Homo sapiens: one gene and its partners. The protein of the gene in region 2 interacts with the protein of the main gene of each other region in a pairwise test. Each region holds a gene or a part of one and is shown on either strand. Other genes may lie near its edges.

Region 1 (7,790 bases), on a different chromosome or scaffold from region 2:
CCCACAAGGTGCCTGGGGGCCCAGCTGTCCTGCTTTCCTGCAGGAGGCACCCACCATGCTTGTCAGCGGCATTGACATCAGCTCCAAGGTCCAGGAGGCGCTGCAGGCAGGGCAGGCGCTCAGGCTCCTCGCTGGCCAGGTCCAAGGGGCTACTCTCGTGGATCTGAGCCAAGGAAGCACAGCCAGGTTGGCTTGGGAAGCTGCTCAGGCCCCTGCCCAACCCTGCTTCAAAGCAAGCTGGACCTGGCACTTACCCGGTCCCTCCGATTAACGTCGGCCCCGTGATGCACCAGCAGCTCCACCATGTCCGGCTGGTTCCGCAGGACGGCGATGTGCAAGGCCGTGTAGTAGGTGACTGGGTCTGAAGGTGCAGACACAGCTCATGTGGGTCCTATCTGTCCGCATTCTTATGGGGCCCCCGGACCCAGAGCCCAGCCCCAAACTCCCACCTAAAGTGTCCAGAAGCACAGGCCCAGCCTCCTGTCACCATCAAGGGTTAGGACAGAGCTGTCCTCACCAGATACTAGAGGGCCCTCGGGGTGTTCTAGTGGGCACGCTACTGAAGCTGTTGGGGGCTTTAGTTTCCTCTTCTGTAAGAAGGGACCATAAAACGGGGCGCACCCTCTCAGAATGGCTGGGAGGCCGCGCTACACAGCAGCTCTGGCGGCTCTGCTTTGTAGGCCTGGTGGTAACAGCCAGGTTCTCCAAGCTGGTCTCCAAGTCACTGGCTTCAGAACCGGCCCTCCCGTCTCAGCTCCTTGACCCTCCAGGAGCCCAGCAGACTCCAAGCCCGTCTTCGGATGGGGAAAGGAGACGTGCCTGGCTGTCTCAGGCCCCTATTAGGTCACAAGGCAGCCCTGCCTGTCTGCCGACTAACCCTGCCCTCCCTGGGCTGAAAAACACAGAGAAAGGAGCTCGGCTCCATCTCCATCCCTGGCACTCAGGAGCCAGGAGCCAGGGTGTCCTGTGGTGATTTATGCCTAATGCAGCCTGTTTTCCCCTCTCCCTACGGCATGAGAAAAAAAAAAACAAATTGGCTCAGAGTAAGTAGCAGAAAATTACCTTCCCTTAGCTCTGGGCACAGTGCCAGCAGCCGCATTTTTGCATTAATGGAAGTGGGGATTAATCTGGGAGCTGGGGAAAGTTTGCTAATCAATCACATGGTAGAAGCAGCAACACTCGCTCTTGGAACAGAGGTGGGAAGAGCCATGTGAAAACCCGCAGGGGGTGGGAGGCCACCCAATGGGAGTTTCCTTAGTTGCAGCCACCCAGGAAATAAAGGGGGGGAAGTCACTCCTCAGAGGATGGTAGAAGCCAAGGCTGGGGACATGGGCGCCCACCCAGCGTCGGGCCGCGTTTAAGCCACCTGCCCACCCCCGGGGCTCTCGCTGACCTTCAAAGTTGAGATTGGCCCCATGCCGCAAGAGAACGTCGGCCGCCCGCGTCAGCCCCAGCTCAGCCATCTTGAGCAGGGCGTTGCTCACGCCTTCCTGGTAAAAGGGAGAGTGGGCTTTCCTCTCCAGCAGCTCAGTGAGAACAAGGATTCGGCTCTCCTCGCTGGCGACATAACTGGGCCTGGGACAGGAGAGAGGCTGAGGGTAGGCACAGCTGTGGGACCGGGTGACCGCGCAGCCTGTGGGTTGGTGGGCTTTAGTCCTGCTATCATCATCAGCAAGCAGGGCCCTGGCTCTGTGGGTCACAGGGGCTTGGGGGAAGCTCTGAAGTAGAGAGAGGGCCACGCTGCATCTCTTAATACGGGAGCAGACTGGGATTTGCGGAGAATGGGCTGGGTCTGTCTGCGCTCTCCTCCCGCGTTGCCCAGAGTCCGGTCGCAGACTTAGGTACAAAGCCTCACACACCTGGGCTGCTGGGACTGAAGGGACCACCAGCCTGGAGGCCAAGAGCCCAAGCCCGACTTTGATGCTTCTTCCTCAGAAAGCCCTTCCATCCTCAAACCCGCAGGACCCCAGCCCCGGCAACACCTGCAGCCAGGACAGCAACACAGCCTCCTCCCTCCCCTCACATTGAGACCTTCAGCTGATATTGATGAAGAAAGCCTACGTTTCCACCAGAGTCCCTGGATGGCGAGACTCATCATTACCACGTGTTGGAAATACCAACTGACAACCCCCTCAACACCTGAGCCGAGCCCCTTCCTTCTGCTCTCCCCTCCCTTCCACCTCGCGTGCCGCCGTACAATTACTTGTCAGTCTCTCCTCTGGAGCACATGCGCCAAGAAGGCGGGGGTTTTGCTGAGCCACTGATGGACCCCAGGTGCCTAGTACCATGGGCAGTGAATGCAGATTCGCTCCCGACCCCTTTCCTGCAGGTCCACGACAGACCAGCTCTTGTCTATAAAAACGCAAACTCTGCTACAAAAGCCCACCTTCACACTGCTCTGGGGTAACATCTGAGGCCTCACGGATTCCACCCTGCTCCTCTGCCACGCCGGGGGGTGGCACAGGACAGGCAGGCGACAGGGTGGGGCTGAGGCGCAGGCCCTGCGACAACCCGCGGGCCTCCGCCCTCGGGCCCTCCCCGCCCTTCGTCTCCGCCATGCAAGGGGCAGGAGTGGGATCCGCGCGGGGCAGCGCGCACTCCGAGCCACGCAACCCCGGCTTCCGCCCGTCCCTTCCTCTGTCAAGGGGGACGCATCCACCCCGCCCGGCTTGTGGTGATAAAGTGGGACGCTGCGGGGTCGGAGCGGCCTCGGCCAGCTCACGGGAGGGGGTGAGTTACCGGTCCAGAGACTCCTGCCGCTCGGGGTCCTGGATCCCCAGGGAGCCCAGAATCGCATCCACCAGCGGCTGGTACTCGAAGATGATCCTCCGGAAGCCGTGCAGGAACGGCATCGCCGCGGGCCCCGCGCAGCAGGGCCGTCGCGCTTTCTGCCGAGGCCGAGATGCCCAGACGCCGACCGGAACGCTCCGGCGGCCGCGGACCCCACCTGCTCCGCCAGTCCAGCCCCTGCGCCCGGCCGGGTCCGCTCCTCAGTCCAAGCCGCGCCCCCGCCGGAAGTGACCCTCGTACTTCCTGCCCGCGCCGACTCAGGGTGGGCCATATGGCGACAGCGCCCCCTGCGGGCTCGGAGGACCTCGGCGCGTCCTGGGGCACGACCGCCAGGCCGACTCGGGCGATGTCCAGTGGGCGGCCCCAGCGGAGTGGGAGAGTGGAGGATCGAGCCAAGCCAGATCCGAGACTCAGGCGGGTCCGCCCCTTCCTGCCAGGGCCCGGCCCGGCTCGGCTTCGCCCTGCGATCCCGCCCGCGACCGCTGGGCGCCGTCCGAGTTCCGCCGGTCGTGCTCTCGGCCCTGCCGCTGCCCCACTGGCCCTGGGCGCCCCTGAGAGCTGTGGTCATCAGACACTGCCCCTTCCGGTTCGGGCTGGCCCTCGCCTTCCCTGAAGAGGGGCTGGGCCACCTCTGTCACCACCCGGCCCGCTGACTGGAATGATGAGGACCAGGGTACTCGCACGTCCCCTCCTCAGTTTCTTATTCTCTGTCCCGGGGAGCACCTGGCCAGGACGGCTGCTAGCCCTCTCCACCTCTGCCTTGATGGACTCAGTGAATCTTGTTTTTTGTTGTTGTTGTTTTTGTTTTTTTGGGGGACGTAGTCTCGCTCTGTTGCCCAGGCTGGAGTGCAATGGCACGATCTCGGCTCACTGCAACCTCCGCCTCCCGGGTTCAAGCGATTCTCCTGCCTCAGCCTCCCGAGTAGCTGGGATTACAGGCGCTGGCCACCACGCCCAGCTTATTCTTGTATTTTTAGTAGAGACAGGGTTTCACCATATTGGCCAGGCTGGTCTCGAACTCCTGACCTCGTGATCCTCCCACCTCGGCCTCCCAAAGTGCTGGGATTACAGGCATGAGCCACGGTGCCCAGCCCGAATCTTGTGTATTTTTTAGAGACAGGGTCTCACTCTGTCTCCCAGGCTGGAGTGTAGTGTAGTGATCATGACTCACTGCAGCTTTGAACCCCTGGGCTCAGGTGATCCTCCCGCCTCAGCCTCCCGAGAAGCTGGGAACACAGGAGTGTGCTACCGCCTGTCTCTGAACTTGGATTTCCTCATCTGTAAAATGGGTAGAATCCCCAGCACTTTGAGAGGCCGAGGCAGGTGGATCACCTGAGGTCAGAAGTTCGAAGCTGCAGACCGGCCTGGCCAATATGATGAAACCCTGTCTCTACTAAAAATACAAAAATTACCCGGGCGTGGTGGCAGGCGCCTGTAATCCCAGCTACTTGGGAGGCTGAGGCAGGAGAATTGCTTGAACCCGGGAGGCGGAGGTTGCAGTGAGTGGAGATCGCACCATCACACTCCAGCCTGGGCAATAAGAACGAAACTCTGTCTCAAAAAGAAAAAAAAAAAGTATAATCACACTCACCTGAGATGCTGGAGCCAGCGCACTGTAATTGTTGGTGGAAGTGGAATTCAGTGGGAAGGAGCCAAAACCCTCTGGTTCAGGAAGAAGGGGCGGAGTGGGCAGCCGGGTTTAAGCCCCTTTAGGGCAACACCAGCTTGGGCTTCCTAGAAGCAGCTCCAGGCCGCAGAGTCCACAGCTGCCAGCACGTTTCTGCCTTGGTTCTCGCTGTAGGAAAGAAATTTCTCCCTGGGTGAAATCGGGAAATTCTGCTCACATGGAAATGGACATTTCCAGCTTGCCTTGGAAAAACCACTTTTCTGGAGTCGAGGCACCTCCCCTTGGGCCATGCATTTGAGCCTCCTCTCCCACCTGGAGTCTGCGTGGGGGGGCCTTGATGCCTTCTTGCTTCTGGGAAGCTGATGATGAAGAGGGGTTTCCCGCCCCAGCAGTCCACATCACAGCGTTGGCCTCCTGGGCCTTGCTCTGCCAAGTTGGGCCCCTCTCCCTGGAACCTGCCAGACAGCGAGAGTTGCCCAGCCCAGGAAAAAAACATTTAAAGGCGCATTTCAAGACAATCCGATGGGTCTTAGAGTAAACATTTTTATATTTATTTATTTATTATTATTATTATTATTATTTTTCAGACGGAGTCTCACTCTGTTGCCTAAGCTGGAGTGCAGTGGCAGGATCTCGGCTCACTGCAACCTCCAACCCCTGGGTTCAAGCCTACCAGGTAGCTGGAATTACAGGCATGCGCTACCACGCCAGGCTAATTTTTGTATTTTTAGTAGAGACGGGGTTTCACCATGTTGGCCAGGCTATTCTCGAACTCCTGACCTCAGGTGATCCACCCGCCTCAGCCTCCCAAAGTACTGGGCTTACAGACGTGAGCCCACCACGCCCAGCCAGATGAAACATTTTTAAATGGGCAGAGTAAGGCCCTCTACCATGTGCAAAACAAACTGTACAAGAAAACCCAAAGCAACGAGCCTCAACCGGCAAGGTTGAGGGTGTGGCAGCAGCGGCTGGTAACTGCTGGCTCTGGTTGTTAAAGCTGTTGTCAGATCCAATGACAGGCTCTCGGAAAACCACCTCCGACGCCAGGCATTCAGAGTGCCTCAGTTTGCTTCCTCTTCCATTACCTAAAGGAGTAGGAAGGAGGGGTGGGGGTGGGCAGCTGGGTTCAAGACCCTTTAAGGCAACACTAGCTTGGGCGTCCCAGAAGCAACTGCAGACTACGAGGGCCCACGGCTCCCCACACATGTCTGCCTTGATTCTTGCTGAGGGAAAGAAGTATCTTCCTGAGGGAAATCGGGACATTTTGCTCCCAGGGAAATGGAGATTTTCCAACTTGCCTTGTAAAAATCAGAAGGGCCCAGATTCTTACCAGACAGCGATTTGCATCCAGATGGGGTGCTTGCCCTGGGTGCACCTGCCTGGGCATGACTCTGAGCGTTTGGAAGTGTCTGCCCCTGCTTGAAGGGTCCCCCTCAATGGATCGCGAGGCCCTGAACGGTACAGCCGCTCTCAGGCGACCCAGGTCTTCACAGCCCCTCTCTCGTTTGATCACACAACACATTTGATCACGTGACACCATGCCCGTGTTGAGTCAGGCCTCGGTCTCCTCACCTATGTGATGGCCTTTGGCCCTCAACCCTCAGGAGACGGAGGCCTGACTTACCCAAGGGCGCATGGTGAGTAACTGCGGGAGGTGCAGTCCCGTGGGGTCCCGGTGGAGCTGGGTGGGCTGACTTCGTCTGAGCCCTGCTTTTGCCCTAGGGCTGCTATAACAAGGTGCTGCAGACCTGATGGCTTAAAACAACAGAAATTCACTCCTTTACAGTTCTGGAGGCGGAAAGGTCAAATTCAAGGTGTGGGCAGGGCCACGCTCCCTCCAAAGACTCCAGAGAAGGTCCCTTTCTTGCCTCTCCCACTCCTGGTGACCACAGGGGTACCTCGGCTTGGGACAGCAGCACCCCAGTGTCCACCTTCCTCTGTCTCCACACAGCCTTCTTCCTGCTGTCTATGCCACTGTCCAAATCCCCCGCTCCCTTCTTTTTCTTTTTCTTTTTTGTTTTGTGTTTTGAGACAGAGTCTCGCACTGTCGCCAGGCTGGAGTGCAGTGGTGCGCGTGTGCCACCACCCTCAGCTAATTTTTTTTTGTATTTTTAGTAGAGACAGGGTTTCACCATGTTGGCCAGGATGGTCTCGATCTCTTGACCTTGTCATCCGCCCGCCTCTGTCTCCCAAAGTGCTGGGATTATAGGCGTGAGCCACCGTGCCCAGCCTTCCCCCTCCTTTCTAAATGGGCATGGGTCACTGGATTTATAGGGCGCACCCAAATCCATTATGGCCACATCTTAATTTGATTACATCTGCAAAACCCCTTTTTCTGAACGAGGTCACGTTCCAGGCACCAGGACTAGGACTGGAACATATCTTTTTGGGGAGCACACATAAACCCACTGTCACGAGTGACCCTAGGCATGGCCCTTCTGGTCTCTGGGCCTCAGTTTCCTCACCTATAACCTGAGGGCCCTCCCAGCTCTGACAGTCTTGGAGCCAATGACGAACTCCTTGACGTGGCTGGTGGGCTCCGCCGACAGAGAAGGAGTGAGGAGGGGGCCATTATAATAACAACAACACGAGCCCACTTGTATTTACGGAGACCCTTGTACATGCCAGGCACTAGATATGCTGAATGTTTGGTGCACTGATCTCCCTAAATCCTGTTAAGTAGGTGATATTATTACCCCATTTTACAAAGAAACGGGCTCAGAGAGGTTTGGGCGCTTGTCCCAGGCTGCACTGTGAGGTTGGGCCTCCAGCCCCGGTCGGTGCAACTTTTCCACGCTTCCTGCCTCCGAGACTCGAGTGTCCTCAGCTCCTCCAGCTCTGGGCTCACGAGTCTGGACATGCAGGAGGGGGAGCTAACCCCCGCCCTCTCACAGCCCTGGGGCACCACCCTGTGGGGCTGGCCCTGCTGCCTGCCCGCCGCCCAGGCTCCTAACTTTAGAGGGCTTTGTGCCCCCTGACCTCCCTCCTGTCAGCAAGGGCAGACTTGTTTCCTCCATCTGCCTCCCATTAGGGCTCTGTCACTCAGAGCCCCTGGTTCCAGCTCTCCGCTTCTCTCTCTTTTCCTTGTCACTGCCACTCACCGCCTGGCCAGCCCAGCCCCTTCCTGCCACCCACCTCCAGAGATCTTCAGCAGGATGGGGGTCCTGGGGACAAGGACCCAGAGCTCAGCCCTGTCCCTGCCTCCTAGTCCTCGGGGAGTTTGGGAGTCACTCCGACTCGTCAATGTACAGAGGGGGATGACCTTAATATATAAAGAGCTGCTAAAAATCAACAACAAGAAGGCAAAAACACCAATAAAAACATGGGCAAAGGACATGCACAGGCAAGTCACGAAGGATGAAAAATGGTCAAA
Region 2 (7,209 bases):
GGAAGGGCCCAGTGACCCTGCAGGAACGCTGCCCTCTGCCAGCAGCAAAATTAGTGGGCTCTGCTGGGACTAAGCGGTGGAGTGGGGCGGGGGCGGGCACCAGCTGCTCCTTCCCCTTCTCCGAGGGCAGCAGACACTGCTATTTACAGAAGGGCAGCTGTGACTGTCACTCAGGCCCAAGGCACTGGAGCCCTGGGCTTCTGTCCCTGCCCTCTGGGTGACCCCGGGTAAGCCCCACCCCACCCGTCACTGGGCCTCGGTTTCCCTTTCTGACAAGGAGTGGAGTCGGGCTTAGGGGTCTAGGATTTCTCCCAGGGAATTAAAGGCAGGGGCCTGGGCAGGAAAAAAGCCCTAGGGAAGTGTAGGGGTGCTGGGACCTGGGGAAAAAGCTCTTCAGAGAGTAGCTGTGTCCCTGGGAAGTCACTTTTCCAGGGCCCATGTGGCTCATGGGCAATGAGCCTTGGGGAGCCCACACCCCTGCACCCCAGCAGACTGAGAGATGGAGAGAGAGCCAAGAAGCGGCGGGTGACTCAGAGAGCACCCAGGGACAGAGTGGGCCCTGATGCGGGAGGTGGGTGTGGGGTCCCCGGTGGTCCCTGGGGGTGCTGTCGGCTGCTGCACCAGCAAAACCTCCCCCTGCCTAAACCTCTCAGTGCCCAAGGACCTCCACTTCCATGTTCCTTTCGTTCTTGGGACCACCAGGGTGGCAGGTATCATTAGATCGGATTTTTTTTTTTTTTTGAGACAGAGTTTCGCTCTTGCTGCCCAGGCTGGAGTGCAATGGCGTGATCTCGGCTTACCACAATCTCTGCCTCCTGGGTTGAAGTGATTCTCCTGCCTCAGCCTCCCAAGTAGCTGTGATTACAGGCATGTAATCCTGTATTTTTATTAGAGACGGGGTTTCTCCATGTTGGTCAGGCTGGTCACGAACCCCTGACCTCAGGTGATCCACCTGCCTCGGCCTCCCAAAGTGCTGGGATTACAGGCATGAGCCACCGCGCTCGGCCCCCAGTTTTTTGTTTTGTTTTGGTTTGGTTTTTTGAGATAGGGTCTCACTCTGTCGCCTAGCTTAGAGGGCAGTGGTGCAGTCTTGGCTCACTGCAACCTCTGCCTCTTGGGTTCAAGCGATTCTCCTGCCTCAGCCTCCCAAGTAGCTTGGACTACAGGTGCGCGCCACCATGTCCTGCCATGTTAGACCAGCTCTGGCACCCGCCAGCTGGGTGACGTTGGGCAGGCCACACTTCCCTCTCTGAGCATCTGTCTGCGCTCTCTTCTGTAATCTGGGGACCATGTGCTCACCTCGCTGGGGTGGGGTACCCAGAGGATGACAGTGTGTCTGTGCAGATGCCCACCAGGCTGGGGTCTGGACACACTGTGGGCTCTCAGAGGGTGGGCACTATTGTTACAGCTATTCCCACTTTCCAAAGCAGGGGGGCCACCTTGGAGAAGACGTGACACTACTGCCAGGGACCTGATGGCCAGCCCCTAAGAGGGGAAGGGTCAGTGCATGCCAGTGAGCAACAATGTTGGTGACAGCCAGAAAGAAGCCTGGCATCCCCCTGGCCAGAAAAGGACCCCCTGGGCAGGGGCTGGGCTGGAGTCTGGCAGCTGAGCTGGGGAAGAGCAGAGCCCCATGGAGTCAGACACAGACCTCCCAGGGAGCCCTCTGCGAATGTGCTCGGTCACTCCTGCCCTCATCCCTGCAGGCCTCGGCTCTGGGAGGTGCCAGGCACCCTTGGGCTGCAGGAGAGGAGGGCAGGTAGCCAGGCTCTTGAACAACATCAAGAACGGTGCCCTGGGCTGGGCACAGTGGCTCATGCTTGTAATCCCAGCACTTTGGGAGGCCAAGGTGGGGGAGGATCTCTTGAGCTCAGGAGTTCCAGACCACTTGAGCAACATAGTCAGATCCCGTCTTTACGAAAAATAAAAAACATTAGCTGGGAGTGGCGGTGTGTGTGGTCCCAGCTACTTGGGATGCTAAGAAAGGACTGCTTGAGCCTGGGAGGTGAAGGCTGCAGTGAGCCATGATTGTACCACTGCATTCCAGCCTGAGTGACGGCCCCTGTCTCAAAACAAAAAGGAAAGAAAGGCTGGACATGGTGGCTCACGACTGTAATCCCAACACTGGGAGGCTGAGGCAAGCAGATCACTTGAGGTAAGGAGTTCAGGACCAGCCTGGCCAACATGGCAAAACCCTGTCTCTCCTTAAAATACAAAAATTAGCCGGGCATCGTGGTGGGTGCCTGTAAATCCCAGCTACCTGGGAGGCTGAGGCAGGAGAATCCCTTGAGCCTGGGAGGCACAGGTTGCAGTGAGCCGAGATCGTACCACTGCACTCCAGCCTGGGTGACAGAGGGACACACACACACGCGCGCGCACACACACACACACACACACACGGACACACACACACACACACACGAAAAGAAAAAATTAGTGCCCCAGAACCCTTTGGTGTAGCCAGAGGACCCTTCCTCGCAAAGGAAGAACCGGGGTTGAAGGGGTGACTTGTTCAAGAGGCATGACAGGCCCACCTCCCAGGGTCCTGGCACCAAATACTTCACCCTGTCAACCAGATTAGACCACGCGGTCCCCAAAGGCAGTCCCTGGCACCCTCAGCTGCTGCCCAGGTGCCTCCTCTGGTCCCCCCAGGCTAGGTGGGATTATGGGGTAACTCACTTTGGGCGGCACGAAGAACTCCAGGCGGAAGCGTTCCTCGGCCACAGCCCTGCGCAGGAGCAGGCGGCACTTCTGCCACTGAGCCGAGCCCCCGGAGCCCGCGGCCGCGTCGTCGGCCACCATGAAGCGCAGCGCCCCCTCGCGTTGAATGTCCACCAGCTCCACCTTGGCAGCCAGCGTCCGCGACAGCCTCAGGCGCCGCGTCCACTTGTCGCGGGGCTCGGCGGTGCGCGGGGCAGCTGCCGCGTCGGGCTCGGGCGAGGCGCGCCGGTGCCACATGTCGCGCACGCCGTCCACCACGCACAGGCTCATGTTGCGCAGCGAGAAGCCCTTGCGAACGCGGGCCTTGGTGGCCGCGTGCGTGGACACGTCCTCCGAGCTCCGCGAGTGGCCGTAGGGCGCCGCCTTGAGTGCAGAGGTGTCCGCGAGCTCCGGCTCCATGGCCTCTGCGCTCACGGCCGCGCCCCGAGTCGTCGGCCCAGCCACCAGCACGCGGCGCACCTCCTCGCCGAAGACGTCCAGGAAGTTGGCGGCGAAGTGGCGGGAGAAGGAGGCGCCGGCGTCGGGCGTGTCGTAAGCTGGGTTGTCCCGCAGGAAACGGCAGAACTTGTGCGCAAAGTCCACGGCGGCCGCCTGCGCATGCAGCTCGCAGAACTGCCGCCAGTCCGGGACCGGGACCGGGACTGGGACCGGGGCGGCTGCGGCGGGGCCAGGGCCGGCACCATTCATGGCTTCCGTCCCATCGCAGCCACCTGCGGCTTCGGGCGAGAAGAGCGCGCAGTGACTTTCAGGCCTGTGATCAATGCGCCCACCTGTCCCCTCCTTCCAGCTCCCCTAGGACTCTCTGGGGCTGTGTGGGTGTGTGTGTACATGCACACGTGTGTGTTGTGGGACTACAGCAGGCAGCCATTCCAAGCAGCATGGATGTGTGTAAAGAGAAAGACAACTGGGGCCGGGCGCGGTGGCCCACGCCTGTAATCCCAGCACTTTGGGAGGCCGAGGTGGGTGGATCACCTGAGGTTGGGAGTTCGAGATCAGCCTGGTCAACATGGTGAAACCCCGTTTCTACTAAAAATACAAAAATTAGCCGGTTAGCCGGGTGTGGTGGTGCACGCTGTAACCCTAGCCATCGAAAGGCTGAGGCAGGAGAACTGCTTGAGCCCAAGAGGCAGAGGTTGCAGTAAAAATACAAAAATTAGCCAGGAGTGGTGGCACACGCCTGTAGTCCTAGCCACTCCGGAGGCTAAGGCAGGAAAATCACTTGAACCCAGGAGGCAGAAGTTGCAGTGAGCCGAGATTGCGCCACTGCACTCCCGCCTGGGCGACAGAGGGAGACTGCAAAAAATAAGAGAAAGACAACTGGGGAGGCAGGAGGTGGTGTCTGCAGAAGGGGCAGTCCTGCATTCATTCTCTCCCCAAATAGTAGTCTCAGGGACCTCAGGGTCATTCCTGGGGCTGGCAGAAGAGGCTGGGATGATGGATGCTTTCAAGTGGGGTCCCCATGAGCCTCTGGTGACCTCACTTCCTCAGTGACCTCTTCTGATGTTCCCCAAAGCCCGGTAGAAAGGAAGAAATCACATGGAATCCTGCTGGCTGGACCTTTGAAATATACCGAGGACTCAGCTCCTTCCTCCAGGTCCAGGCTGCCGTCCTGGGATTCGCATAACTATTTTTCCTGCATGCAGCACTCCAGCAGCTGCTTTATGGTCCCCGGGATCCTGATCTTACTTCCTCTAAAGTCTGTTCTCCTCCCAGGAGCCCAGTCATTTCCAAAACTCAAGACTGCCATGTGCGGTGGCGCATGCCTGTAATCTCAGCACTTTGGGAGGCCGAGGCGGGTGGATCAGGAGGTCAAGAGATTGAGACCATCCTAGCCAACATGATGAAACCCCGTCTCTACTAAAAATACAAAAATTAGCTGGGCATGGTGGCATATGCCTGTAGTCCCAGCTGACTGAGAGGCTGAGGCAGGAGAATCGCTTGAACCCAGGAGGCGGAGGTTGCAGTGAGCCGAGATCCCACTACTGCACTCCAGCCTAGGTGACAGAGCCAGACTCCACCTCAAAAAAAAAAAAAAAAAAAGCCAGGCGCGGTGGCTCATGCCTGTAATCCCAGCACTTTGGGAGGCCGAGGCGGGCGCATCACGAAGTCAGGAGATCGAGACCATCCTGGCTAACACAGTGAAACCCCATCTCTACTAAAAATACAGAAAATTAGCCGGGCGTGGGGGCAGGCACAGGCTGAAGCAGGAGAATGGCGTGAACCTCGGAGGCGGAGCTTGCAGTGAGCCGACATCGCGCCACTGCACTCCAGCCTTGGCGACAGAGCGAGACTCCATCTCAAAAAAAAAAAAAAAAAAAAAAAAGAGAAGAAAGAAAGAAAAAGTAATAACAAAAAAATTGTCTTGGCCGGGCACATTGGCTTACACATTGGCCTGTAATTCCAGCACTTTGGGAGGCCAAGGTGAGCAGATTGCTTGAGCTCAGGAGCTCAAGACTAGCCTAGGCAACATGGCAAAAGCCTGTCTTTACAAAAAATACATAAAATTAGCTGGGCAAGGTGGCACACACCTGTAGTCTCAGCTATTCAGGACGATCACCTGAGCCTGGAAGGTTGAGGCTACAGTGAGTTGTGATGGGGCCACTGTACTCCAGCCTGGGGACAGAGCGAGACCCTGTCCCAAAAAATAAACAAAAAAAGTTGATCTGAATGTGGTGACATGCCTATAGTCCTAGCTACTCAGGAGGATTACCTTAGCCTGGGAGGTTGAGGCTACAGTGAGCTGTGATGGCACCACTGTACTTCAGCCTGGGCAACAGAGCAAGACTCTGTCTCAAAAACAACAACAACAACCAATCTGGATGTGGTGGCATGCCTACAGTCCTAGATACTAAGGAGACTGAAGTGGCAGAATCGCTTGAGCCCAGGATTTGGAGGCTGCAGTGAGCTATGATCGTGACAATGCACTTCACTTGGTGATAGAGACTCTGACTCAAAAACAAAACAAAACAAAAACAAAAACCCAAAACCAAAATACAAGACAGATCACATCCCTCCTCTGCACAAAATCCTGCAGTGGTTCGTATTACAGTCAGAGTAAAAGCCAAAGCCCTATCCACAGCCCCTAGGGTCTGACATAATCTGCCTCTGTTTACCCCTCTGGATATACCTCCTGCCACTCTTCCCTGGCTGGACCTGCCTCCTTGCCCTCCCAGAAGCATAGCAGCCAAATTTCTACCTCAGGACCTTTGCACATGCCTGGAATGCTCTTTCCTCCACATTCCCTCACCTTCTTCAGGTTTCTGCTCAACCAATGGCTTGGCGGATAGCCTTCCCTGACCACTCTTGAGAATGACAAATCCCTCTGATGACAATACTCCCTCTGATGCGTTCATGCACTCTGCCTATTTTCACCATTATCCTTATTGCCGGCTGTCATATCATATATTTAGTTGCTTGGTTGTGTGTCCCCTCCACCCCCTTCCCCCGAGAATGCCAGTTTCACAAGGCAGGGATTTTGCCAGTCCTAGAAGCGGCTGTGTCCTCAGTGCTGGGCATACAGCAGGCGCTTGGGAAACACTGACTGAATGAACAAATGAATGAGTTTGGCACACCAGGCATGTCACAGCTGTCACCGCCTAAGCCCTCACTTGGGGCCTAAGGACAAACAGCTTGTTAGTGACAAGACAGGTCCAGGGTTCTCGCCCAGGTCTGCAGTGACTCCAGGACTTGAGGGGTCTCCTCCTAGTGTGGATCAAATATGGTAGTTCCCTCTCGTTCAAGGGGTATATGTCCCAAGAACCCCAGCAGATGCTTGAAACTGGCTAATACTGAACCTCTGTATACTGCGTGTGTGTGTGTGTGTGTGTGTGTGTGTGTGTGTGTAGAGATGGGATCTCACTCTATTGATGAGGCTGGTCTTGAACTCCTGGGTTCAAGCAATCCTCTGGCCTTGGCCTCCCAAAGTGCTGAAATTACAGGCACGAGCCACTTGCACCTGGCCCGCTACATTTTTTTTGGATCTAATAACCCAGACAACTCCTAAGTGGCGAGCGGGTCGTATCCAGAGTGCGGATATGCCAGACAAAGGGATAATTCACATCCCAGGCAGAACAGCGGGATGGTTTGAGACTTCATCCTGCTACTCAGACTGGCCTGCAATTTACATTTGTATTTGTATGTTTACTTCTGGGATTTTCTATTTAATATTTTCAGACCTCTGTTGACCACGGGTATCTGAAGCCTTGGAAAGCAAAGCTGTGGATAAGAACCAAGCGTTTTTTTGTTTTTTGTTTTTTTTTGAGACAGAGTCTTGCAGTGTCTCCCAGGGTGGAGTGCAGTGGCGAGATCACAGTTTACTGCAGCCTCCAACTCCTGGGCTCAAGCGATCCTCCCGCCTCAGCCTTCCGAGTAGCTCAGACTACAGGCAAGAGCTACCATGCCTGGCTAAAGGGACCAAGTTTTTGTACGGACATTGAAGACCTTGCTTCTTTCCATCACAATGGCCTGCACGCTTCTACTTACATTCCC
Region 3 (7,072 bases), on a different chromosome or scaffold from region 2:
AATCAATAAACATAATCCATCACATAAACAGAACCAATGACAAAAAAACACATGATTATCTCAATAGATGCAGAAAAGGCCTTCGACAAAATTCAACAGCCCTTCATGCTAAAAACTCTCAATAAACTAGGTATCAATGGAACATGTCCCAAAATAATAAAGGCTATTTATGACAAACCCATAGCCAATATCATACTGAATGGGCAAAAACTGGAAGCATCCCCTCTGAAAACCGGCACAAGACAAGGATGCCCCCTCTCACCACTCCTACTCAACATAGTATTGGAAGTTCTGGCCAGGGCAATCAGGCAAGAGAAAGAAATAAAGAGTATTCCCTTAGGAAAAGAGGAAGTCAAATTGTCCCTGTTTGCAGATGACATGATTGTATATTTAGAAAACCCCATTGTCTCGGCCCAAAATCTCCTTAAGCTGATAAACAACTTCAGCATAGTCTCAGGTTACAAAATCAATTTGCAACAATCACAAGCATTTCTATACACCAACAACAGACAAACAGAGAGCCAAATTATGAGTGAACTCCCATTCACAATTGCTACAAAGAGAATAAAATACCTAGAAATCCAACTTACAAGGGAAGTGAAGGACCTCTTCAAGGAGAACTGTAAACCACTGCTCAATGAAATAAAAGAGGATACAAACAAATGGAAGAACATTCCATGCTCATGGGTAGGAAGAATCAATATCGTGAAAATGGCCATACTGCCCAAGGTAATTTATAGATTCAGTGCCATCCCCATCAAGCTACCAATGACTTTCTTCACAGAATTGGAAAAAACTACTTTAAAGTTCATATGGAACCAAAAAAGACCCCACATTGCCAAGACAATCCTAAGCAAAAAGAACAAAGCTGGAGGCATCATGCTACCTGACTTTATAGTACAAGGCTACAGTAACCAAAACAGCATGGTACTGGTACCAAAACAGAGATACAGTCCAGTGGAACAGAACAGAGCCCTCAGAAATAATACCACAAATCTACAACCATCTGATCTTTGACAAACCTGACAAAAACAAGTAATGGGGAAAGCATTCCCTATTTAATATATGGTGCTGGGAAAACTGGCTAGCCATATGTAGAAAGCTGAAACTGGATCCCTTCATTACACCTTATACAAAAATTAATTCAAGATGGGTGAAAGACTTAAATGTTAGACCTGAAACCATAAAAATCCTAGAAGAAAACCTAGGCATTACCATTCAGGACATAGGCATGGGCAAGGACTTCATGACTAAAACATCAAAAGCAATGGCAACAAAAGCCAAAATAGACAAATGGATCTAATTAAACTAAAGATCTTATGCACAGCAAAACAAACTACCATCAGAGTGAACAGGCAACCTACAGAATGGGAGAAAATTTTTACTATCTACCCATCTGACAAAGGGCTAATATCAAGAATCTACAAAGAACTTAAACAAATTTTCAACAAAACAAACAACCCCATCAAAAAGTGGGCAAGGGATATGAACAGACACTTCTCAAAAGAAGACATTTATGCAGCCAACAGACACATGAAAAAATGCTCATCATCACTGGTTATCAGAGAAATGCAAATCAAAACCACAATGAGATACCATCTCACACCAGTTAGAATGGCAATCATTAAAAAGTCAGGAAACAACAGATGCTGGAGAGGATGTGGAGAAATAAGAAAGCTTTTACACTGCTGGTGGGAGTGTAAATTAGTTCAACCATTGTGGAAGACAGTGTGGCAATTCCTCAAGGATCTAGAACTAGAAATACCATTTGACCCAGTGATCCCATTACTGGGTGTATACCCAAAGGATTATAAATCATTCTACTATAAAGACACATGCACACATATGTTTATTGTGGCACTGTTCACAATAGCAAGGACTTGGAACCAACCCAACTGTCTATCAATGATAGACTGGGTTAAGAAAATGTGACACATATACACCATGGAATACTATACAGCCATAAAAAAGGATGATTTCATGTCGTTTGTAGGGACATGGATGAAGCTAGAAACCAACATTCTGAGCAAACTATCACAAGGACAGAAAACCAAACACTGTATGTTCTCCCTCATAGGTGGGAATTGAACAATGAGAACACTTGGACACAGGGAGGGGAACATCACACCCTGGGGCCTGTCGTGGGGTGGAGGGTAGGGGGAGGGATAGCATTAGGAGAAATACCCAATGTAAATGACGAGTTAATGGGTGCAGCAAATCAACATGGCACATGTATACCTATGTAACAAAGTTGCACGTTGTGCACATGTACCCTAGAACTTAAAGTATAATAATAATAGAAAAAGAAAATTAAATAAGTTGGAAATACAGTACGCCCAGCCAACAGGCAGACACTTGAAGAGATTATGGTAAATCCATTGCAAGGAATAACATTCAGCCACTAGAATGAAAGAATTAGAGGTATAAATTGAGGAGATTTCATTATTAATTAGGAAAAAGGTTTGCCTGGAAATTCAATATGGAATGGTTTGATTTTTATAAATGAAACAAAGTGGAAAGCCATGTGTTCTATCTAAACATATACATGCCAACACATCAGCAACCCTACTCGTTGATGTTGATCCTAGAGAAATGCATGCACATGTTCATAGGGAACATGCGCACAAATATTAATAAGAGTATTATTTTGTTTTGGAAAAATGGGAACTGCATAGGCGTGGATCATTAGGAACAGGATAAATTGAAAATGATGAAATGTACAAAATTAAAATAAATGAACTAGAGTTCCATGTATTTACATGGGTAAACATAAAAAATATAAAGTTGAGCTGGAAAACCAAAGTGTTGATCAATGTATACATTATGAAGACGTGCTTTAAATAAAGGAAGAGATTCTATATTGTGTACAGACACAGAAGTAGGTAGCAAATATATACAAGTCTCCATGGGCATAATTGCTGACTTCATTATAGAGGAGCACAGTGGGGAAGGAGAGAGCAGAGTGGGTCAGGGAAGACGTAATAGGAGGGTTTTGCCATATCCAATATATAAAAGATAAACAGTAAGTAGGGCCTAATATTTAAATTTTATACAGCTAGCTATTGGTGTTTATAATATTAATCTCTCTTCTTTGCCCTACGTTTGAGATTAAGTCGCAGTAAAAAAAAATTCATGCTAAAAACAAGCAAATAAACTGCAAAAGTAATCCTCCCATTTTTGTTTCATGAGGGTAGGATTGTACATGCTATAGACTTCCATGCAAGACCCAAATTCCTGGAAACAGTAAAATAAGTTCATACCTGTACTGAAAAACAATTCAGAGCAATTATCAATGGACCAGAAACTGCGAGAATTCTCAGAATGTGGGACAGCAGATGGAGCCAGACTACTGTTTTGAGTAGGTCATGTCCCAGAACGCGTGCAAAGGTTATCCCAAACGGAGGGCTGGCTCAAGAGTGCTCTGTGTCCTGGAGAGGTGCTTTCTTTGCTTGACCAAATTGATTTATTGCTAACTTACCCAACAGGAGGTCTCGGTGGGCTCTAATTATAAAGAAAATTTCAGCAAGACAGGCATAAAGTATTCATTTGTTTCTTAAGAGTTCAGTTAAGAACACCTATAAAATCTTTTCCATCATGAATTCCTTCAGCACGCATTTATTAAATGCCACACTCACACACCGCTTGGAAAACCTTGAGAGGCAAAATCTGTGCTTACCATGTAATAAATGCTTTTCATTTTTTATCTCATTTAATTCTCACAACCCTATGAGGGCTGTACTTTAGCCCCACTTTATAGATGGGAAAACAGGCTTAGAGAGAAGTGACTTGCTTAAACTAATACCTTGAATGACATAAGAAAGATATAGAGTGCTAGTTATAGGGCTTTCCTCAATGGAGTAAAAATGGACTCATTACCCTTTTGGGCAGATCAAGACAAGCTTCAGGGAGAAACAGGTCTGTGAGCAGTCAAATGGAATTTAGATAGTTGGAGAAGGCTGAGAAGACAGGTCAGGCAGAGCAAACAGTGAGCAAAAGCAAGCAGTGGATAAAGTTCAGAGTATGCTCTGAAAGAAGCAAAATAAATCAGGAGTCCAGGAAGACTGGAGCCTAGAAACCTTGGAGCCAATCTGAACTCCATCATCCCCTCCACATTCCCCACTTCATCCATTCTGTCTGCAAAGCCCTTCAACGGTCACCTTTAAAATGTCTTTCTGCCTCTCCATCCCCATGGCAACAGCCTTAAGGCATACTTTAGTTCCCAGTGCTTCTTATTCCAATTGCTTCCTATGTGGTCTGCCAGGAAACAGTTTGCTTTTCTGAGAGGCTGCACAAATGCAATTCCTCTGATCCTGTCACTGCCCTGCTTTCATACATACATACATACATATATGTGTGGTAGATATATGCACTGTATATAAACATAATGTGGTAGATATATGCACGATATAGGTATGTATGTATGTATGTATAAAAGCAGGGCAGTATATATATCGTGCATATATCTACCACATTTTAAAGGCTCTGCACCTCTTTCACCCTGCTTGTTTCTGCAGTCCCATCTCCTCACATCATCCAGCACATCTGCCATAACAATATTATCCGGGTCCTACATGGGACCACAAATTGATTAGTATACACACAAATGCCTTCTGAAAACAGGGCGAGTGAATGAACGCGCTGTGTAAGCCAAGACAGGAAAGGAAGGCTGGAGACAGCTGACTCCTTCCAAGAATACACCCTCCCGCCACCCCTGGCCTCCCAACCCCCAACACACACACAGCCCGTCGTCAGTGGGAATGGAGCCGACGCACTCCTTCCCTAGACCGTCGAGCCAATCTTGGAATGTTTGTAGTAGGCTGAAAATACAGAAACTTTAAGCTATTTTTTTCTCTTCTGCAAACTCCAGGCCCCTCCAATCTCTAGCTGTCATTTCTGCCCTTGTCCCACCCCTGTCGCTGCCTGCCCCTTTTCCTATCTGCTAGCGGAAGTCCCTGTGGAGGACCAGCCTACTTCCTCTTTGGTGCTAGGAGTGTGCGTGGCAGGAGAGGCGGGGCCAATTTTGCTGAGCTTTCTCGCGGGCTTGCAGCTGCGGCAAGTGCTGGCGGCGGCTGCTCGCGCAAGTCAGCTGGCGTGGGAACTACCCTTTGTAGCTGAGAACGGCTTGTTTATTGCTACAAAGACTCTATTGACATTGGTAGCTTCAGCGGCAGCAGCTTCTTACGGTATAAAGCTGTTGCTTCCTGAAGAGGCTACAAGCATCCTTCCCTAGGACTGCTGTAAGCTTTGAGCCTCTAGCAGGAGACATGCCTCGGGGACGAAAGAGTCGGCGCCGCCGTAATGCGAGAGCCGCAGAAGAGAACCGCAACAATCGCAAAATCCAGGCCTCAGAGGCCTCCGAGACCCCTATGGCCGCCTCTGTGGTAGCGAGCACCCCCGAAGACGACCTGAGCGGCCCCGAGGAAGACCCGAGCACTCCAGAGGAGGCCTCTACCACCCCTGAAGAAGCCTCGAGCACTGCCCAAGCACAAAAGCCTTCAGTGCCCCGGAGCAATTTTCAGGGCACCAAGAAAAGTCTCCTGATGTCTATATTAGCGCTCATCTTCATCATGGGCAACAGCGCCAAGGAAGCTCTGGTCTGGAAAGTGCTGGGGAAGTTAGGAATGCAGCCTGGACGTCAGCACAGCATCTTTGGAGATCCGAAGAAGATCGTCACAGAAGAGTTTGTGCGCAGAGGGTACCTGATTTATAAACCGGTGCCCCGTAGCAGTCCGGTGGAGTATGAGTTCTTCTGGGGGCCCCGAGCACACGTGGAATCGAGCAAACTGAAAGTCATGCATTTTGTGGCAAGGGTTCGTAACCGATGCTCTAAAGACTGGCCTTGTAATTATGACTGGGATTCGGACGATGATGCAGAGGTTGAGGCTATCCTCAATTCAGGTGCTAGGGGTTATTCCGCCCCTTAAGTAGATCTGAGGCAGACCCTTGGGGGTGTAAAAGAGAGTCACAGGTACCCCAAGGAGTAGATGCCAGGGTCCTAAGTTGAAAATGATGTCGATTGGGGGCGGGGGACACTGTATTTGATATTTGTGATCAGTGATCATTGTTCAACTGCGAAATAGAGTGTTTGCTTTTGATAATGGAAAATTGTATTCGTTTTAAAATTCCGTTTGTTGAGAATAACAATATGTTTAAAAATATAATTGAACAAATTTTTTTCTTTGTTTCCTGTCATTGACATTTAGTATAACAGTTTTGCTAACGTTCTAAAATGAAGTCGTTCCATCATAATCTATGATCTTGTACAGCACTTATAGAAATAAGCTGTTCTTTTGAAGTTGAAATACCCAGTAAAATGTTGAAGAAGGATGGAGGATTTCTTCATATCTGACGTTTCTGAAACCCTTTGTGTCTGCTGTTGTGTGAAGATTGACATTTACCATGATTTTCCTTAGTTACTGCAGAACATAGAGAAAAATAAAAGCCTAACGAATAGTACATCTTGCGCATTTTCTGACCACCTGTTATGTGAGGCACCAGTCTAGATTCTAGGGATACTCCCTAGTACACATCCTCCAGGTCCAAAGAATGTTCTAGATTATGTGGGAAAGAAAAATAGGTAAACTGGCAGTGCAGTAAATGCTGGGATAGAGAACGAGCCTGAAGTGCCATGAAAATGTAAAAAACCTTATGTGACCTGTCTTGGGGAGTGGGCCGGGGAAGGGAGCACCATAGGATGTGTGAAAATTCAAGAGACACTTAAATAAGTTTGGGGGGGACTGAAATATACGATCAGAATATATGATGAAAATATTATGTATTAGATATTTGATTGGATACTCCACCCAGCATAGGGGAGGGAGCACTGGCAAAAAGAAGAGGACATCACAGGGTGCCTGCCACGGAAGTAGAAAATACACAAAAATCATCTTGAGAGGAGGAGGGCAGAGAGAAGGGGTGGTTGCAGGGGAAAAGGTTGTCATGGGGTACTTCAGAAATAAAAAAAGATGAGACCGTCAGAAAATCTTGGTGAGGGGACAATCTGAGGTTTGGAAATAATAGAGAAGAAGGGGAGGGAGTAAAAATGGAGGCACTGAAGGTAGCGTGGACATTT
Region 4 (7,298 bases), on a different chromosome or scaffold from region 2:
TGCAAAAATTAGCCAGGCATGGTGGCATATGCCAGTAGTCCCAGCTACTTGGGAGGCTGAGGTGGGAGAATCACCTGAGCCTGGGAGGTTGAGGCTGCAGTGAGTGGAGATTGCACTACTATACTCCAGCCTGGGTGGCACAGTGAGACCCCGCCTCAAAAAAAAAAAAAAAAAGAAAAATTAGCTAGGTGTGGTTGTGCAAACCTGTATTCCCAGCTACTTGAGAGGCTGAGGTGGGAGAATTGCTGAGCCTAGGAATTTGAGGTTGCAGTGAATGATGATAATCCCTGCATTCCAGCCTAGGCAACAGAGAGAGACCTTGTCTCTAAATAAATAAATAAAAATTTTAAAATGAAATATTACTAGGATCACTGTTCATAATAGTCAAAAAGTGGAAACAATTCAAATGTCCATATTCAGTAAAATGGATAAACTGTGGCATAATCATATGATGACTCCAGCAGTGAAAACATGAATGAACTTCAGGTACACATAACAATGTGGGTGACTCACAAATTTGAGCAAATGATCCCAGGCACAAAACACACACAACATGATTCCACTCATATCATTTTAAACAACAGGTGAAACTAACTACACTGTTTAGATATATAGGTGGTAAAACTTTACAGAAAATAATTAATTCAACAGATAGTGATTAACCACAGAGAATAGAAAAGTTATAATGAGAAGGATTCAGTAGGGGCTTCTGGGAGACAAGTAATATCCTTTTTCTTCACTGGGTGATGAAGCTGTTCATACGTGCTCTGTGCACATTTCCTTTTTCCTTTTTTTTTTCTTTCTTTGAGACAGAGTTTCGCTCTTATTGTCCAGGCTGGAGTGCAGTGGCACGATCTCGGCTCACTGCAACCTCTGCCTCCTGGATTCAAGTGATTCTCCTGCCTCAGCCTCCTGAGTAGCTGTGATTGCAGGCGTCCACCACCACACCTGGCTAATTTTTTGTATTTTTAGTAGAGATGAGGTTTCACCATGTTGGCCAGGCTGGTCTCGAACTTCTGACCTCAAGTGATCCACCTGTCTTGGCCTCCCAAAGTGCTGGGATTACAGGCGTGAGCCACCGCACCCGGCCCTGTGCACTTTTCTTATGTGCATTCTAGTTCCACAGTTAAAAGCAGTAATAATATAAAAGGAAAGAAACATAGGGAAAGAGACGGTGGGAGGCAAGCGTGCCACCTCTGCCCTAGAGGGCTCTGAGAGAGGCTCATGCCCCCATTCCCGTGTGAACCTCACACCCTTCCGCCATCCCCACTCCTAACGTGGGTCTTACTCACGCATCTCCCAGGAAGAGGCTGGGCCAGACCTCATCGATATGGTTCAGTGTGGCAGCCTGACGGACCCACAGCAAGCGCTGCAGCGAAGCCAATGTGGGCGGCTGGTAGGGAGATGCCTGGACTGCCCCATGGATCTTGGGCCTCCGGAGGTCCTGCTTCTGCAGTGAGTCCATCCTGGAACAGAGTGGACACCGCAGTGGCTGGAGGCAGGCTCCCAGAGGGTGGATCCAGCTGATGGGGAAGCCCATGGTGCAGTGCCTAGGTGCCACGGGGATGCTGCAGGAAGGGCTTCATCTATTTCACATGAGGTATTAACAAGCTCAGCTGGGGCTGAGGCCTAGAACCCTTCCCCAGGGAACAAGGGAATCAAGCCTTTGTCACTGCTATGGAGCTGGGCAGACCTCTCTCCTGCCCTCTGCTGAGCTGCAGATGTATGAAGCTTTGGCCAAGGGGCCCTTGGAGTTCCCTGTTTGTGGCACTAGTCAGTGCAGATCTCATCCCTAAATCAGCTTGGACTTTGTAGGGATGAAAGCCCCAGATGGCTGTGGCTCTCAGGGCACCCAGGAAGCCCCCACCAACCTAAGCAGCTCATCTCAAGCCCCCTCACCTGCTACTTCCAGTACTCATCCTCAGACCCCCGTCCCCTCCCACTTTCAGGGGCTTGGAGATCAGAGCCTATCTCCAGGTAAGAGGCCAGGACTGTGAACTGGTATTTGTTAGCAACTCCGCATGGAATGAGCTAATGCCTCTTATAAGCCTGATGCCTCTGGCTGGGCACGGTGGCTCACACTTGTAATCCCAGCACTTTGGGAGGCTGAGGCAGGCAGATCAACTGAGGTCAGGAGTTCGAGACCAGCCTGGCCAATGAGGCAAAATCCTGTCTCTACCAAAAATACAAAAATTAGCCAGGTGTGGTGGTCCACTCCTGTAGTCCCAGCTACTAGGGAGGCTGAGGCAGGAGAACCTTTTGAACCTGTGAGGCAGAGGTTGCAGTGAGCTGAGGTCACACCACTGCACTCCAGCCTGGGCAACAGAGCGAGAGTCCATCTCAACAACAACAAAAAGCCTGATGTCTCACTCGTGGGATATCTGTTCCTATTTTACCCAGGAGGAAGCTGAAGCTCAGAATGTTTTAAAAGTGATGCCCAAAGCCATACGGCTCATGAGTAGCAAGGCTGGGGTTTTAGTCCATCCCCAAGCCTTTCAGTTACCATCTTTGGGGCCTCCAGAGAGTGGTCACTAACCCATCTGCTTCCTCAAGGGAGCCTGGTACTGCTGAGCCACACACCTGCCTACAGGCCCTGGGTTTTCCTCCTTACCCCCACGACTCAGGCCAGCACTGGATGTCAGGCCCCACCCGGGTCAGGTAGCTTGTTTCAGGCATCTGCTGGCTGAAGGAGTCAGGGACCCTGCGGAGCTGGATTTTCAGCGGCACCAGAATATGGGCCTGGTGCCGTGTTGGAGAGGGGGTCCTGTCTTTGCTAACTGCCCCTGATCCCCTGGACCAGTGACTAGGGAAGGTGCATACTGGGAAGAACATCTTTTCCCTTTGGTAGGCAGTGCCAGGACCAGAAAAAGAAACAGGCACCCAGGAGGCTGCCGGCTTGGCCAGGCTCACCCAGTGGGAGGCTGTCGGGCAAGGCGGAAGTGAAGACCAAGCTGTCCTCCTCATCCCCCACTGTGACCTCTCCAGGTGGCTGAGTGGCCTGCCACCTACCTGGGGCATGGCCTGGGGCCGGGAATGGGGGAGTGGGTGCAGGGGCAGGACTCTGCCTGAGCGGAACAGGGCTGGGCAGGTTCTGCCCAGAACACAAACACTGTGAAGCGGCTAGAATTCCAGGTGCTGGCTGGGGCGCCCATGGGGGGTGGGGCCTGAGAGCCGACTGAGGCCTTGTGGACTGCAGTGGGCCCTCCGGTCCCTCTAAACCCCCAGGCCTCCTCTCTGCTTGGTATCTGTTTGGGATTGAAGACCGTTGGTTCCATAAACCTCCATGAAGATGGGAGTCTACCTGAAGAGGTGGGAAGAGAACTTCTGAGGCAGGGAGGAGAGCCTGGCTCCCCCAGCACTCTGCCATAACTCATTCTGTGGCCACGAGCAAGTCTTTGCTCCCATCTGGACCACAGTTTATCTTCCCATGCTAGGGATGCTGGACTTAATTTTCAGGATGCTCTGGGGGTCTGACCCGAGAATGAGAGAGGAGTGTCTGGATATGCGGTCACTGCAGGGCAGAGGGCAGTGTAGTGTGGTGGAGTTGGGGAAGCCCCCAGGACCCAGAGGAGTCCAACAGCCACACTGGTCTGGAGCCATCAGGTGGGGCTGCACCACCCCAGGCAGGAGATGGGGCTTTGGGAAGTGGGACAGGCTCCGGGCTCAGGCCTGCGGAGCTTGGCATGGGGTGAGGCTGCCCCCTGGTGGCCAATGGGTGTGTCACAGCCCAGCCTTGCCAGGGAGCAGGCAGCCAGGCTCCACCCCCAGGAGGCTCCAGAGGGGTCAAGGATTTGGGGGCTGGTAGGCCACAGTGCATGCCTCTGCCTCCGAGGGGACCTAGGCCCAGGTCTGAAGAACGGGGCTCTCCCCTGGACTTAGCGCTATGCCTGGTCAGGCTCCACCTAATGCCTTGCTCCCGATGCTCAGGGTGTTGCCCCACCTGTCCACTCTAACCCACTGGGACCCAGCCCATCCCATCAGTCAGAGTCAGGCCCGGCCACCCCCCCAGGGACTCGTCCTTTAAGCCCCAGTCCCTCCCAAGGAGGGGAAGTCGGTGGTTGTGGCAGCTCCGCCGGTTTCTGACACCTGAGACTTGGTCTTCGGAGGGCCCTGCCTGACACTACATTCCATGTCTCCTTGTCCCCAGCTGGGTGAAGCACAGGCCCAACGTCCAGCAGGGCCAGGGCCCGGCCGAGCTCCCCTCCCACTCCCTGCAGTCTTCCTTCTCTCCCTGATCCCGTGCTCCTCCTCGCCCCCTTCCTGCCTCCCCCGCTCAGCAGAGCAGCTGCCTCTGTAGGCAGGGCTTTTCCTGGCTGCTCCTGTGCTGCTGCTGTTTGCAAGTCCATGCACTTCTTTTCTGTGTTTGCATCTCTCCTCCCTGGGTCACTCCCCCGTTTGCCTCTGTCTCCCATCCTCCCCCAGGAAGCTCATGTGCCTTTGCAGCCTCCCATGACGCTGCTCTGTGTGCCCAAGACATCGGGCAGAGGCACAGGCTTCCTTGGGGCAGGGGGCAGCTGTTTGCCATCCACCTCTCAGCTGCAGTTTCAGATAGTCCCCTGGACTTTCTTCCTGCCCATCCTTTCTGACTCCACTCCAGGGAGGCCAGACAGAAGTGTGGCCACAGGCCATGTGGGGCTGGAGATCTCAGGGCAGGACCAGTGAGGAGTGTGGGGAGAAGGCCTGCAGAAGGGTGGCGTGTGGCTGCCAGTGGGGAACAGCTGTGGGTCTCTGTGCTCAGCCTGAGGGTCTTGGGGAGGGCAGACCTGGGTAGAAATCTCAGGTCTGGTACTTGCAGCTATGTGGTCTTGTCTTCACCAAGCCAGTTTCTTCAGTGGGGCTGCTGTGAGAATTCCATGTAATAATTAATGTAAAGCACCTCCCACAGGGTCTGTCTTATGGTAGATGCCCAATAAATGGCACGTCTTACTATTATTATCACTACTATAATTACTCTTACCCTTTCCAGCCCCAGCCATATCCTATGTGGAGGGTAACTTCCCTACGGGACAGTGAGATTTCTTCTCTATCTCTGTATTTCTTGATATTTCTTTCTCTGTCCAGCAATAATTGTTATATTTAGCACTCATCAAGGATGTACTATGTGCCAGACAGAGCTAGGTGCTCACATTTTCTCATTGAATCCTCACAGTGCCTTTATGGAGCAGGTAATATTATCATCCCCATTTTACAGATGAGGAAACCGAGACTCAGAGAGGTTAAGCAACATACCCAGAGTCACATAGCCAATTGATGTGGGAGTCAGGATTCAAACCCAGGTCTCTCTGACTCTACTATACCTTGTCTGCGCCTTCATCTCTGACCCAGTCGGTTCTCTACCCAACCCAAACCCCACCCCTCCCCACACAGGCACAAGTGTCCTGGCCCTCATTACCCAGCATGCTCAGGGACCACATCCTACCCCCCCCAAATTAGGAGCACTCACCCACCTGTGGGAGTATCTGGCCCAGGCTGTGCACTTCTCTGACGGGCAGTTCGTGCTGCTGGCTTTCAGCCGCCTGTCTCCGCACACTTGATGCTGTTTCTATTTTTTGATTTGAGTTTAATTATAAAGCATGCTGTCTACTCCCCTCTTCCAGCCTCCCCTGCCACTCCCAACTTGTCCACTGGTTCCATGGCATGGCCAGTGCCAAGCACAGTCAGGCACCTTTCCCTCCAGGCCCAGGCCTCTGTCCCAGCACTGCTAAGAATCAAGGCAGCTCAGCCCAGGTCTGACTGTGGCATATTGTGTACATGTATGTTGATAGTGGGAGAAGGGGCCGGGCGCGGTGGCTGAAGCCTATAATCCCAGCACTTTGGGAAACCGAGGAGGGTGGGTCATGAGGTCAGGAGATCGAGACCATCCTGGCTAACAGGCTAGCCGGGCGTGGTGGTGGATGCCTGTAGTCCCAGCTACTCAGGAGGCTGAGGCAGGAGAATGGCGTGAACCCGGGAGGCAGAGCTTGCAGTGAGCCGAGATCGCGCCACTGCACTCCAGCCTGGGCGACAGGGCGAGACTCCGTCTCAAAAAGAAAAAAAGAAAAAACAAAAAGAAAAAAAGAGATAGTGGGAGAAGGAAGATCAAATAAACCATTTTAAAAGGTCCCTTGGCCGGATGCAGTGGCTAATGCCTATAATCCCGACACTTTGGGAGGCTGAGGTGGGAGGATTGCTTGAGCCCAGGGGTTCAAGACCAGTCTAGGCAATATAGCCAGACCCTGTCTCTACTAAAAATACAAAAAATTAGTGAGTTGGGCTGGTCGCGGTGGCTCATGCCTGTAATCCTAGCACTTTGGGAGGCCGAGGTGGGCGGATCACCTGAGGTCGGGAGTTCGAGACCAGCCTGACTAACATGGAGAAAACCTGCCTCTACTAAAAATACAAAATTAGCTGGGCGTGGTGGCGCATGCCTGTAATCCCAGCTACTCGGGAGCCTGAGGCAGGAGAATCATTTGAACCCGGGAGGTGGGGGTTGTAGTGAGCTGAGATCACGCCATTGCACTCCAGCCTTGGCAACAAGAACGAAACTCCGTCTCCAAAAAAAACATTAGCTGGTTGTGGTGGCACACACTTATAGTCCCTCCTACTCGGGAAGCTGAGGTGGGAGAATCACCTGAGCCCAGGAAGTCAAGGCTGCAGTGAGCCCTAATCCTTGACCATGCCATTGCACTCCAGCCTAAGCAACTGGAGTGAGACCCTCTCCCTTGGCCTTCAAGGGTATTATAGAAGAAGGGCAGGAAGTTCAAGTTGGAAGGATGTTCTGTGGAGGAGGACAGTGAAGAGGCTAGCCAAAAATCACATGTAAACTGGTGGCATTGCCAACAGCAGGACCCAGGTCCGGGGCCCTCAGTTAGGGGCCAAGGCCGATGGGACAGGTCCAGGATAAAGACCTAGAAGACTCAGGCTGAGGGAAGCAGCACAGGCCCACACACAGACACAGGTGTAGAGCAGGTCTTCAGACAGCCCTGGGCTGCAGGCAGAAGCAGTGTGTCCAGGGCCACTCCCACCCTCTGCCAAGCTCCTCCCCCAACCCAAAAGGCAGGGACACCCAGGCCCCACTGTCCCCTGAGGCCAGAGAGATGGTCTTTAAGGTCTCTCCCCATGCTAACTGTGGTCAGCTAGGACCTTCAATTGGGCCTACTAGAAATCTTCTCTGTCATCCACAGACCTTTGTCATACACACATACCTTGATACTACTCCCCGCTTGCACTCCCAGATGGTGGGAACAGGGCACACCCATGCCTGCAGCCATACCTGCACTGGGTCTCTGAGGTCTGAGCTCCAGGGAGCTAAGGCTCAG

What was found.
Region 1: the proteins of SH2B2 (region 2) and ASB6 interact in binary tests that used the Homo sapiens proteins (3 or more experiments, as listed by UniProt).
Region 3: the proteins of SH2B2 (region 2) and MAGEH1 interact in binary tests that used the Homo sapiens proteins (3 or more experiments, as listed by UniProt).
Region 4: the proteins of SH2B2 (region 2) and DUSP13B interact in binary tests that used the Homo sapiens proteins (3 or more experiments, as listed by UniProt).

Annotation. Positions count from the first base shown.
Region 1 is NC_000009.12:129,639,148-129,646,937, forward strand, and holds the start of ASB6 (ankyrin repeat and SOCS box protein 6), read right to left. Parts: upstream 3,005-7,790; 5' UTR 2,853-3,004; coding exon 2,740-2,852; intron 1,576-2,739; coding exon 1,394-1,575; intron 362-1,393; coding exon 255-361; intron 164-254; coding exon 55-163; intron 1-54. UniProt on the Homo sapiens protein: Probable substrate-recognition component of a SCF-like ECS (Elongin-Cullin-SOCS-box protein) E3 ubiquitin-protein ligase complex which mediates the ubiquitination and subsequent proteasomal degradation of target proteins.
Region 2 is NC_000007.14:102,296,750-102,303,958, reverse strand, and holds part of SH2B2 (SH2B adapter protein 2), read right to left. Parts: intron 3,438-7,209; coding exon of another isoform or gene 3,409-3,437; coding exon 2,680-3,408; intron 1-2,679. UniProt on the Homo sapiens protein: Adapter protein for several members of the tyrosine kinase receptor family. Involved in multiple signaling pathways. May be involved in coupling from immunoreceptor to Ras signaling. Acts as a negative regulator of cytokine signaling in collaboration with CBL.
Region 3 is NC_000023.11:55,447,111-55,454,182, forward strand, and holds MAGEH1 (melanoma-associated antigen H1), read left to right. Parts: upstream 1-5,016; 5' UTR 5,017-5,264; coding exon 5,265-5,924; 3' UTR 5,925-6,456; downstream 6,457-7,072.
Region 4 is NC_000010.11:75,096,420-75,103,717, forward strand, and holds the start of DUSP13B (dual specificity protein phosphatase 13B), read right to left. Parts: upstream 3,094-7,298; 5' UTR 3,019-3,093; coding exon 2,612-3,018; intron 1,467-2,611; coding exon 1,293-1,466; intron 1-1,292. UniProt on the Homo sapiens protein: Dual specificity phosphatase that dephosphorylates MAPK8/JNK and MAPK14/p38, but not MAPK1/ERK2, in vitro. Exhibits intrinsic phosphatase activity towards both phospho-seryl/threonyl and -tyrosyl residues, with similar specific activities in vitro.